2 separate regions of the Homo sapiens genome follow, and region 2 is linked to region 1. The links come from fine-mapping of genetic effects on gene expression. Tissue or cell type: whole blood. Region 1 holds a variant in brackets; the other region holds the start of a gene. All regions are shown on one strand. Distances are from middle to middle.

Region 1 (5,000 bases):
AGAGGTGGGGTGGGCCTGGAGTGCGCCACTTCTGCCCCCATCCTGCTCTCTCCCAGAGCACGCCGAGGCAGACACCTTTTTCTGCTTCACCAACCTCATGGCCGAGATCCGGGACAACTTTATCAAGAGCCTGGATGACTCGCAGTGTGGCATCACCTACAAGATGGAGAAGGTTTACTCCACCTTGAAAGATAAGGATGTGGAGCTCTACCTGAAACTGGTGAGGACCCCAGGAACAGACGGGTGGAAAGGGACAGGAGGCAGAGAGTTGCTGTGCCATCCCAGCCCAGGGCGAGGTCTCGCTTGAGTCTGGGGGTCAGAAGTAGCTGCTGCTGCTGCTGCCCGGGACGCTGACCCATGTGCTGAGGCAGCTGATGGTGGAGCCCAGCTGGGAGGGAAGGGGAAAGTTGAGAATGGTGCCCATTGTGTGCCAGGCATACTGCAGGGCATTTACTATGAACTAAATTGGTTAAGCTGTTAGTAGTCTTCTGAGGTAAGTGTTAACTTCATTTTTTTTTTTTTTTTGAGATGGAGTCTCGCTCTGTCGCCCAGACTGGAGTGCAGTGGCACAATCTCGGCTCACTGCAAGCTCCACCTCCCAGGTTCATGCCATTCTCCTGCCTCAGCCTCCCAAGCAGCTGGGACTACAGGCACCCGCCACTGTGCCCGGCTAATTTTTTGTATTTTTAGTAGAGATGGAGTTTCACTGTGTTAGCCAGGATGGTCTTGATGATCTCCTGACCTCGTAATCCACCCGCCTCGGCCTCCCAAAGTGCTGGGATTACAGGCATGAGCCACCGTGCCCAGCCCTTTTTTTTCTGTTTTTTTTTTTTTTTTTTTTTTTTTGAGAAGGACTCTCTCTCTCAGAGGCCAGGTTGGAGTGCAGTGGTGCAATCTCAGCTCACTGCAACCTCCGCCTCCCAGGTTCAAGCAATTCTCATGCCTCAGCCTCCCCAGTAGCTGGGATTACAGGCGTGCGTTACCACGCCTGGCTAGTTTTTGTATTTTTAGTAGAGATGGGATTTCGCTGTGTTGGCCAGGCTGGTCTCGAACTCCTGACCTCAAGTGATCCGCCTACCTCCCTCTCCCAAAGTGCTGGGATTACAGGCATGAGCCACTGTGCCTGGCTGGCCAGGAATAATGATATCTTTTTAAACAAATATGGGTTGAGTGTGATGGCTCACAGTTGTAATCCTAGCACTTTGGGAGACTGAGGCGGGAGGATCGCTTGAGCCCAGAGGTTGAGCAACATAGTGAAGCTTTGTCTCTACAAAAAATTTAAAAACAAATTAGCCAGGCATGGTGGCACAGGCCTGTAGTCTCAGCTACTCGGGAGGCTGAGAGAGGAGCCCTCGAGGTCAAGGCTGCAGTGAGCCATCCATGATTGTGCCACTGCACTTCAGCCTAGGCAATATAGCGAGACCTCATCTCTAAAAAAAAAAGGAAGTATGCTTTTGCTGTTTTGTAGCATGCTTTTTCAGTTAATATTCACTGTGGCTGACCAGAAGGCTTGTCTCTACTGGGAATAATTGCCTGTGGAATTGTTCTGTGGATTAAATGAGTGAGAGGACATATTTAATATTCTAAGCATAGCCCAGGCTTTTAGTAAGTGCCCTGTGATGGTCACTCAGCACATCCACAAACCCAAGGCTATCATCTGCAAAGTGTGTGAAAAGAGTTTGAGCCATCATTTATAAATCTGGAGAGCTTATTATATAAAGGTTTGGGTTTCCAGCTTCTCTTTAAAAAATAGGAAGATCTGAGGATGTTGGCTGGCAGCAAACAGGCTCCGCCCCTTTACCAGGCAAGGCTGTCCGGCAGCCTGGTGCCAGCCCTGGTGCTCACACCTGGCATGCTGGGCCCTGCTGTTCTGAATTCACTTCTGACCCACTGCGTGGTGCTCCATGGCCGGCAGCCAACACAGAGTCATGCCCCCCACCCCCCACGCTGTCTCCCCAGCAAGAGCAGAACATCAAGCCTCAGTTCTTTGCCTTCCGCTGGCTGACACTGCTGCTGTCCCAGGAGTTCTTGCTGCCTGACGTCATCCGCATCTGGGACTCCCTCTTCGCCGATGACAACCGCTTTGACTTCCTCCTCCTCGTCTGCTGCGCCATGCTCATGTGAGTGCGGGCATGAGCTGTCATCAGCTCACCTGGGCAGTCCTTGGAGAAGCCAGACAGGAGG[A/G]CCCTCCGCCCCGAAGGGTGGGCAGGGCTGCTCTTTCATGGCTGGAGTGGGATTCTGGAGTCCTTGGGAGGGCGACAAACCAAACTTGAGGTGGGTAGGGAGGGAGGAGTGGGCAGGGCCTGCACTCAGAGCATCCCAGGTCCCAGCGCTTTTGCTGCTGCTTTTCATAGGCTGATCCGGGAGCAGTTGCTGGAAGGGGACTTCACTGTGAATATGCGGCTGCTGCAGGTAATGGGAGTTGGGGGCAGGCTCAGCCACTGCCATGAGGCTGGCACTCGCCAGGCACCTGCCCACGCCAGCTGCTGCGACAGGCTGGGCAGGGGCAGCGGAGTGTAGTAGGGATTAAAGTCCAGACCCCTGAGCAGATCTGGTTTGGATCTGGGTTTGAATCCTGGTTCTGCCACTGACCTGGAATGTTGGGTGGCCTTGAGCAAGTGACTTGGCCTTCAAACCGTGTACTCTACGTAGGTGTTCACACCTAGGACACAGCAGGTGCCCAGAACATGGCCGTGCTTGCTGGTGGCCATGCTCAGGCCCGGGGAAGGAGGGTGGGGTGTAGTGATTAAGAACATGGGCTCACCGGGCGCGGTGGCTCATGCCTATAATCCCAGCACTTTGGGAGGCTGGGGTGGGTGGACCACCTGAGGTCTGGAGTTCAAGACCAGCCTGGCCAACATGGCGAAACCCCGTCTCTACTAAAAATACAAAAATTAGCCGGGCTTGGTGGCATGCACCTGTAATTCCCAGCTGCTTGGGAGGCTGAGGTAGGAGAATCACTTTAACTTGGGAGGTGGAGGTTGCAGTGAGCCAAGATCGCATCACTGCACTCCAGCCTGGGGGACAGAGCAAGACTCTGTCTCAGAAAAAAAGAACATGGGCTCAAGGGCCTACAGCTTTAGGTCCACAGTTTTGCTCTGCTGTGCTCATCATGTGACCCAAGCCAAGTTACAGCATCTCTGGGTCTCAGCTTCTTCACCAGCACGTGGCCTTAGTGTTGCTTTGTTGTTGTTTTTTTTTTTTTGAGACAGAGTCTCGCTCTGTTGTCCAGGCTGGAGTGCAGTGGTGCAATCTCGGTTCACTGCAACCTCCACCTCCCAGGTTCAAGTGATTCTCCTGCCTTAGCCTCCCGAGTAGCTGGGATTACAGGTGTGTGCCACCACGTCTGGCTAATTTTTGTACCTTTAGTAGAGACAGGGTTTCACCATCTTGGTCAGGCTGGTCTCGAACTCCTGACCTCAGGTGATCCGCCCACCTCAGCCTCCCAAAGTGCTGAGATTACAGGTGTGAGCCACCAAGCCCAGCCTAGAGTTGCTTTTCCCTAACTTCATGGACCAGATCTGGAAAAAGTGCAGAATCACAGTGGCCACTCACAGGGCTGTTGGGACTTCGCGCTGATGCTCAGACACTGGCCCAGTCCTACTGGCTCCACACGAGGGAGCTCGGGTTCAGTGGCAGTAGTGGGAGAGCTGAGGCAGCACGGTCTGGTCCTGAGGAAAGGGCCGCAAGAGCCTGGGAGTGGTTGTGTTTGGATCGTTGAGTTGGTGCTGCATGGTGTAGCGTCAGCTGCATGCAGGGGTCTGGGGGTTGGGGAGTGTGGGATGCCTGGTGTTCTGTGCTCCTGCCCCTGAGGCCCAGGATCCAGCATGGCAACGGGTCCCAGCAGGGAGGGTGTGGGTGTGGCAGGGGTGAAGTGGCTTCAGAGGCAACTGTTGGCCTTTTCCTGTGCCCAGGACTACCCCATCACAGATGTCTGCCAGATCCTGCAGAAAGCCAAGGAGCTCCAAGACTCAAAGTAGCCCGGCGGCAAGAGGCCCATGTTCCGGAGAGAAGCCTCCCGACCCTGTGCCCTGGCTCCCGGGACACATAGAAACCTGTAGGAACCCAGCCTGAGGGGAAGCCACAGGATCGGCCCGAGACCCAGGCCATGCCCACTGGGGACACACTGTGCCGTGCTCCTTCTGCCGCCACGCCCAGCTCCCCACCTGCCCTGCACTCTGCCCTCTTTGCCCAGGATACTGAGGAGGGCTGGAGCTCGGGAAGTTGTCCTTCCTGGGCCAGGGCCGTTTCTGGCACTGGGAGGCTGGCAGGGGCCCCTCCCTGCCTCGGCTCTGCCGCCCCAGCCTCAGTTCCTGCTTCTGGTCTTCTCCTGGGCTCCACTCAGGGGAGGTGCTTGGCCAATGGGCCAGAAACCGCTTCTGAGCGGGGCACTTCGGCTGCTCCACAGGGAAGGCGACACTGAAAGCTGAGTCCTGCCGTCTGTCTCACCCACAGATGTCTGTAGTCGGTCGGTGTGAATGTGGGCCCAAGTCCCCAGGCATCTTCTCCGTGTGTGTGTGTGTGTGTGTGTGTGTGTGTGTGTGTGTGTGTGTGTGTTAGGGAGTGAGGGTCTCTCAGGCCTCCAGGTCTCCCAGCCCCTCCTTCTCTGTCTCTACCTCTCTGCCTGTCTCCTTCCACCTCCTTCCCAGAGTGGGACTGTGTCTTGCTTCATGATTCCTCTCTCCATTACTCTCCCTGCCCTTCTCTGTTGGGGTGCCTTATCCTGAGCCACCTCCTCTCCCCGCTTGCCTCTGCTCCCCTGAACCTGGGAGACAGATGAGGAGACTGGCTCAGCAAGGCCCCTGGAGGTCAAGCTTGGCCTTTGCCTCCTGTTCCCATCCCCCAGCCCTGGCTCCTAGGTCCTCCCAACTGGGAGGGAGTCCTCCGTGCCTCACTTAGAGGGTTCTGAACCCGTTCCCTACACAGAAATCTTGGAAACCAAATGCTGCTGAGTAAGGATGAAGCTTTGAGCCTCCTGCCCCTGCTTTCTGCCCAGGGAG
Region 2 (5,000 bases), 100 kb before region 1:
GGCATGAGCCACTGGGCTTGGTCAGCCTTTTTGCTTCTAAATGATGGATAATAACGTTCATTTAACCTCCATTTTATTTTATTTTTATTTATTTATTTTTCTTGAGACAGAATCTTGCTCTGTTGCCCAGGCTGGAGTGTAGTGGCGTGATCTTAGCTCGCTGCAACCTCTGCCTCCCAGATTCAGGTGATTTGCCTGCCTCAGCCTCCCGAGTAGCTGGGACTACAGGCGTGCGCTACCACGCCCAGCTAGTTTTTCTAATTTTTTATTTTATGTATTTTTTTGAGATGCAGTTTTGCTCTTGTCATCTAGGCTGGAGTGTAGTGGCGAGATTGGCTTACTGCAACCTCCACTTCCCAGGTTCAAGTGATTCTCCAGCCTCAGCCTCCCTAGTAGCTGGGATTACAGGCACCCACCACCATGCCCAGCTAATATTTTTTTTTTGTAGTTTTAGTAGAGACGGGGTTTCACCATGTTGGCCAGGCTGGTCTCGAACTCCTGACCTTGTGATCCGCCTGCCTCGGCCTCCCAAAGTGCTAGGATTACAGGCGTGAGCCACCGCGCCCAGCTGCCTTTTTAATTTTTTTTTAGCAGAGACGGGATTTCACCATGTTGGCCAGGCTGGTCTTGAACTCCTGACCTTAAGTGATCTGCCCTCCTCAGCCTCCCAAAGTGCTGGGATTACAGGCATGAGCCACCATGCCCAGCCAACCCCCATGTCAAAGAACCTACTATGTGCCAGGTGCTTCTGCTAATGTCTAGACCTCAACAACTCTAATGTGTAAATGTCACATTTCGCCTCTGATTATGAAATCTGGGCATGTTTCACAGAGCCAAGTTGCCTTTGCTTATATGTCAATGCCACTTGGGTGATTTCCCATAGCAGGACAACCCAGTGTTGTCCATGGCTCACCAATTTCACTTTTTTCCAGTCCATTATGAAGGAAGTGATTAGTGCAAAGCACAACATGTGGCTTCCTTCATTCAGTAAGAGCACCAGAGCCTGTCTGTTCCAAGTCACTGTCGGTATTTGACCCTTCATCACCTTCCCACCTCCTGGAGGACGCTCCTCCACGAAGTGCTGACACAACCTCCTGTAAACGCAGGATGCCAGGACGGGCTGAATGGCCCGCCATAGACTAGGCAGTGACCAGCACACCTCCCTTGGGCTGAAATAGTGGCGGCTATTTCACCAGGTGTAAATGGCTTTTCTCCCGTGTGGATGGATGGGCTTTTTAGGGTAAAGCCCTAAAAAGTGGCACGGGCTGAACCAGCAAGCTCAGTCTGAGTAAGAGATGGGCCGGAGAGAGGTCTGGTTCATTCATCTGTAATTTGTAATTTATCATAATTTTGGGTGAGGATTTACTTTTCCACAAGTATACGTTCTTTTTTTTTTTTTTTTTTTTTTTTTGAGATGGAGTCTCGCTCTGTCACCCAGGTTGGAGGGCAGTGGCAGGATCTCGGCTCACTGCAACCTCCGCCTACTGGGTACAAGTGATTCTCCCACCTCAGCCTCCTGAGTAGCTGGGATTACAGGCGCCCGCCACCACGACCGGCTAATTTTTGTATTTTTAGTAGAGACGGGGGTTTCACCATGTTGGCCAGGCTGGTCTCGAACTCCTGACCTCGTGATCCGTCCACCTCTGCCTCCCAAACTGCTGGGATTACAGGCGTGAGCCACCGCACCTGGCCTAGTATACATTCTTGTAGTGACTAATATCTAGTCTGGGCCAACCACTCCGAGGAGAGAGACAATTTTGGATTAGCCCACATTACACCAACAACGTGCGAGACAAAGAGAGACTTGAGGGGCTTGGTCGAGGAGGCCCAGCGCGTTAGAGGCGGGAGCCAGGTTGTAGAGGGGCTCAAAGTTAGAGGAGGCGGCCAGCTCCACCGGCTGCACCCGGCTGGGCGACCCGGCAACCTTCAGGGGGCGCTGTTTCCCCCATCCCTGTCCCTAACTGGCCGGCTCCCGCGGGCGCGCGGCGGGGAAGGCCAGAGGACCTGGGCGCGGGCGATGTGCCTCCTGAGCGTCCAAACCGGGGGTGAGGCGCGGTCACGCCCAGCGGGAACCGCAGGCGCCGAAGCCCGGGTACTGGGCCCAGAATCCCGCGGAATTTTGGATCCGAGGGAGGCGCTGGGGCGCGGGACCTCGGGCGTGGGGTCCCGGGCGCTGGATCGGCGCGGACGGGAGGCGGCGCTGGTCCCGCGGGCCAGCGGGTCTCGGGAGGGGGCGCCCGATCCCGCGTCTCCGGCGCCGCTTCCCGGGAAGTTTCAAGTTTGAAAGTCCTGGCGGAGGGTCTGCGGCTTCCGGGACCGGAGTGGCTGAGAGAAGGGCCCCAAGCGGCCGGAGCGGCGCCATGGAGGAGGGGGCGCCGCGGCAGGTGAACGGCGTGGGAGGGGCGCGCGGGCCCGGGGGGTGCGAGAAAGCCTCTGTCATCGCCCCGGAGCCCCGAACCGCGGCCGCTTCCCCCGATCCTCCCCTCACCCGCGCCCCTTCCCTGCCCCTGCCCTGGCCCCGGCCCCGCGACGCCCTCGCAGAGCAGACCTGATCTCCGGGTTCGGTGGTTCCTGGACCTTGCACAGTCTCCAAATCAGTCCGCGGCTGACCCGGAGACTGAACCCCAACCAGCCCGTGAGCGAGGACGGCTGAGTCCGCAGTGTGCGCCACCAGGGTGGTCCCCAGAGTGTCCTTAAGTCGGTTCTCCTCGGTGGGGCTCCAAGGCCGACGGGAATTAGCCGGGATAGAAAGGCGGGGCACAGGGGCCTGGGGGGGTTAGAATGTGCGCGCAGCGGGGGGCGCAGTCTGTGCGCGCTTGGCAGTGGCAGGAGTCCTTCCCGGAGCACAGGAGGCACGAGGGGAGCGTAGATGAGAGGGGAGCGGCCTCCCCCGCCCCAGGGCGGGAACCTTTGGGTACATAGCGGGTTCTAGAATGCGGAGGGGGCTGGGTTTCCTGCCAGAGCTGGCAGTAGGTGCGCGTGGGCCCGGAGGACCGAGGCCATGTCTATCTGCTCCTGAGGAGGGAGAGGTGGTGTCCTGTTCCGGAGCGAGTGGTTGGGAGGGGGGCATTTGCGGACAGGAGTGGGTCCCCGCAAAGAGCGGAAAGGAGGTGGTGTGTGTGTCCATGTTGGAGTTCCAACCCAGGGCAGACGGGACCATGGGGGTGTTGCGGGGTGCGTGTAGACTCCTTGAGCGCCCAAGCCAGTCGTTTAGGCCGCCTTCAGGGCTGGGGCTCGGTCTGCCCCCTCCCACCCCCTTCCTCTGGAGGTCCCTCCGCCTGTTCCAGACGTAGCTTGTACACATTTTCCGATTTCCTGCGGGGCTCCGCCCTGCAGCGGCAGCTGGGTGACTCAGGACCCCGGTGGCCGGGCCCCCAGCTCCATGGGACCTTTGTTTGCTCCGGTCTTTGGCTCTGGCCCTGTGGCCTAGGGCGGTCAGAGGATTTCCTGAGCCTCGCCCTTGCCCTCTGACAGCTGGGCCAGCAGGCCCCGCTGAGGTCTGGGGTGGGGGGGTCCCTGAGTCTGGGGTTGCGGCCCCTTCCACTGGGCTCAGGAGAAGATGGAACACAGAGAGGTAAGATGGGGTTCCTGCAACAGCCCGTGTTGCGGGGCATCATGGGTTACCCGGCCTGAGGTCACCTTTGGCACCGGTTGGTTTGAAATGCTGGCGGCTGGAAAGGAGGTGTTCCTGTTCCTGGCTCCAACCTGGGTGAAGCCGTGAGAGAGCCTTCTACTTCCTCCCGGGAGCTGAGCAGGGAGTGGGCACCCGGAGACCTCCCCAGTTCCTCTCTGTGCCTCTGCTTTGCTACCTGTGGCATTGGGACATCAGGGGAACAAGCCCTGGCTCCCAGGCCCCTGGCTGCCTTCTCATGTGGCTTCGTGTGAACCCCTATTCGGCGTAGCTTTTGTGGCTCCTGGACTCTACTTTGGGTCCCAGATGTAGAGAGAGCAGCCTGATTACCCAGGGCTGCCAGGGACAGCTGGGGCCCGAGAGATGGTGGCCCCTCCTCTGTGTCTTGACTGTGGGCAAGTTACTTCACCTCTCTGGGCCTCAGTTTCCTCACTAGAAAATAGGGGTAATAGTACAGGCGTGGTGGCTCACACCTGTAATCCCAGCACTTTGGGAGGCCAAGGCAGGTGGATCACCTGAGGTCAGGATTCAAGACCAGCCTGACGAACATGGAGAAACCCCGTCCCTACTAAAAATACAAAATTAGCCGGGCTTAGTGGCGTGTGCCTGTAATCCCAGCTACTCAGGAGGCTGGGGCAGGAGAATCGCTTGAACCCGGGAGGCAGAGGTTGTGGTGAACCGAGATCGTGCCATGGCACTCCAGCCTGGGCAACAAGAGCAAAACTGTCTCAAAAAAAAAAAAAAGAAAAAGAAAAAGAAAAAAGAAAATGGGGGTAATGACCACCGCTACCGGGTGGGGTGGCTGGGAGGAGTGATGTGGTAATATATGCAAAGCACTTAGAATAGAACCTGGCACCCATTTACCGTGTGAACTGTCCCCCCCGCCACATCCTTCTCTAACGGGCGGAGGACAGGAGCCTGGCCTAGATGAGTGGCCTCGGAGTTTCCATCTGGCTCAGGCCTGAGCTCTAAGGGGAGAGAGGCTTCCAAAACCCTGTGCGAGTCAGTCCTGGGTGCCGTCCCTTCCTTCGCCTCCATCTGCAGTGAGCAAAGGCTGCTGGTGGCCGCTGCACCCCATGGCTGTTCTCCACCCTCTGCTTTCCACCGGCTCTGCAGCCTGGGCCGAGCCAGTGGCCCCCAGAGGATGAGAAGGAGGTGATCCGCCGGGCCATCCAGAAAGAGCTGAAGATCAAGGAGGGGGTGGAGAACCTGCGGCGCGTGGCCACAGACCGCCGCCACTTGGGCCATGTGCAGCAGCTGCTGCGGTCCTCCAACCGCCGCCTGGAGCAGCTGCATGGCGAGCTGCGGGAGCTGCACGCCCGAATCCTGCTGCCCGGCCCTGGGCCTGGCCCAGCTGGTGAGTGAGGAG

The links. PIP is the estimated chance that this variant, and not a neighbour inherited with it, causes the effect.
Region 2: PKN3 starts here. The variant in region 1 is fine-mapped to the expression of PKN3 in whole blood (GTEx, PIP 0.90).

The regions. Positions count from the first base shown.
Region 1 is chr9:128,803,900-128,808,899 of GRCh38, forward strand. It overlaps TBC1D13 (TBC1 domain family member 13), which reads left to right. Exons shown (of 12, transcript NM_018201.5): 9 at 57-220; 10 at 1,960-2,120; 11 at 2,355-2,412; 12 at 3,915-5,000. The coding sequence ends at 3,980. Among named protein-coding and RNA genes, the nearest start is that of ENDOG, 12 kb to the right of the region's middle. The variant A/G (reference allele first, on the strand shown) is at 2,185.
Region 2 is chr9:128,700,556-128,705,555 of GRCh38, forward strand. PKN3 (protein kinase N3) reads left to right here and starts at 1,948. Exons shown (of 22, transcript NM_013355.5): 1 at 1,948-2,384; 2 at 4,748-4,988. The coding sequence starts at 2,361. RefSeq lists a silencer at 1,841-2,410 and an enhancer at 2,225-2,764.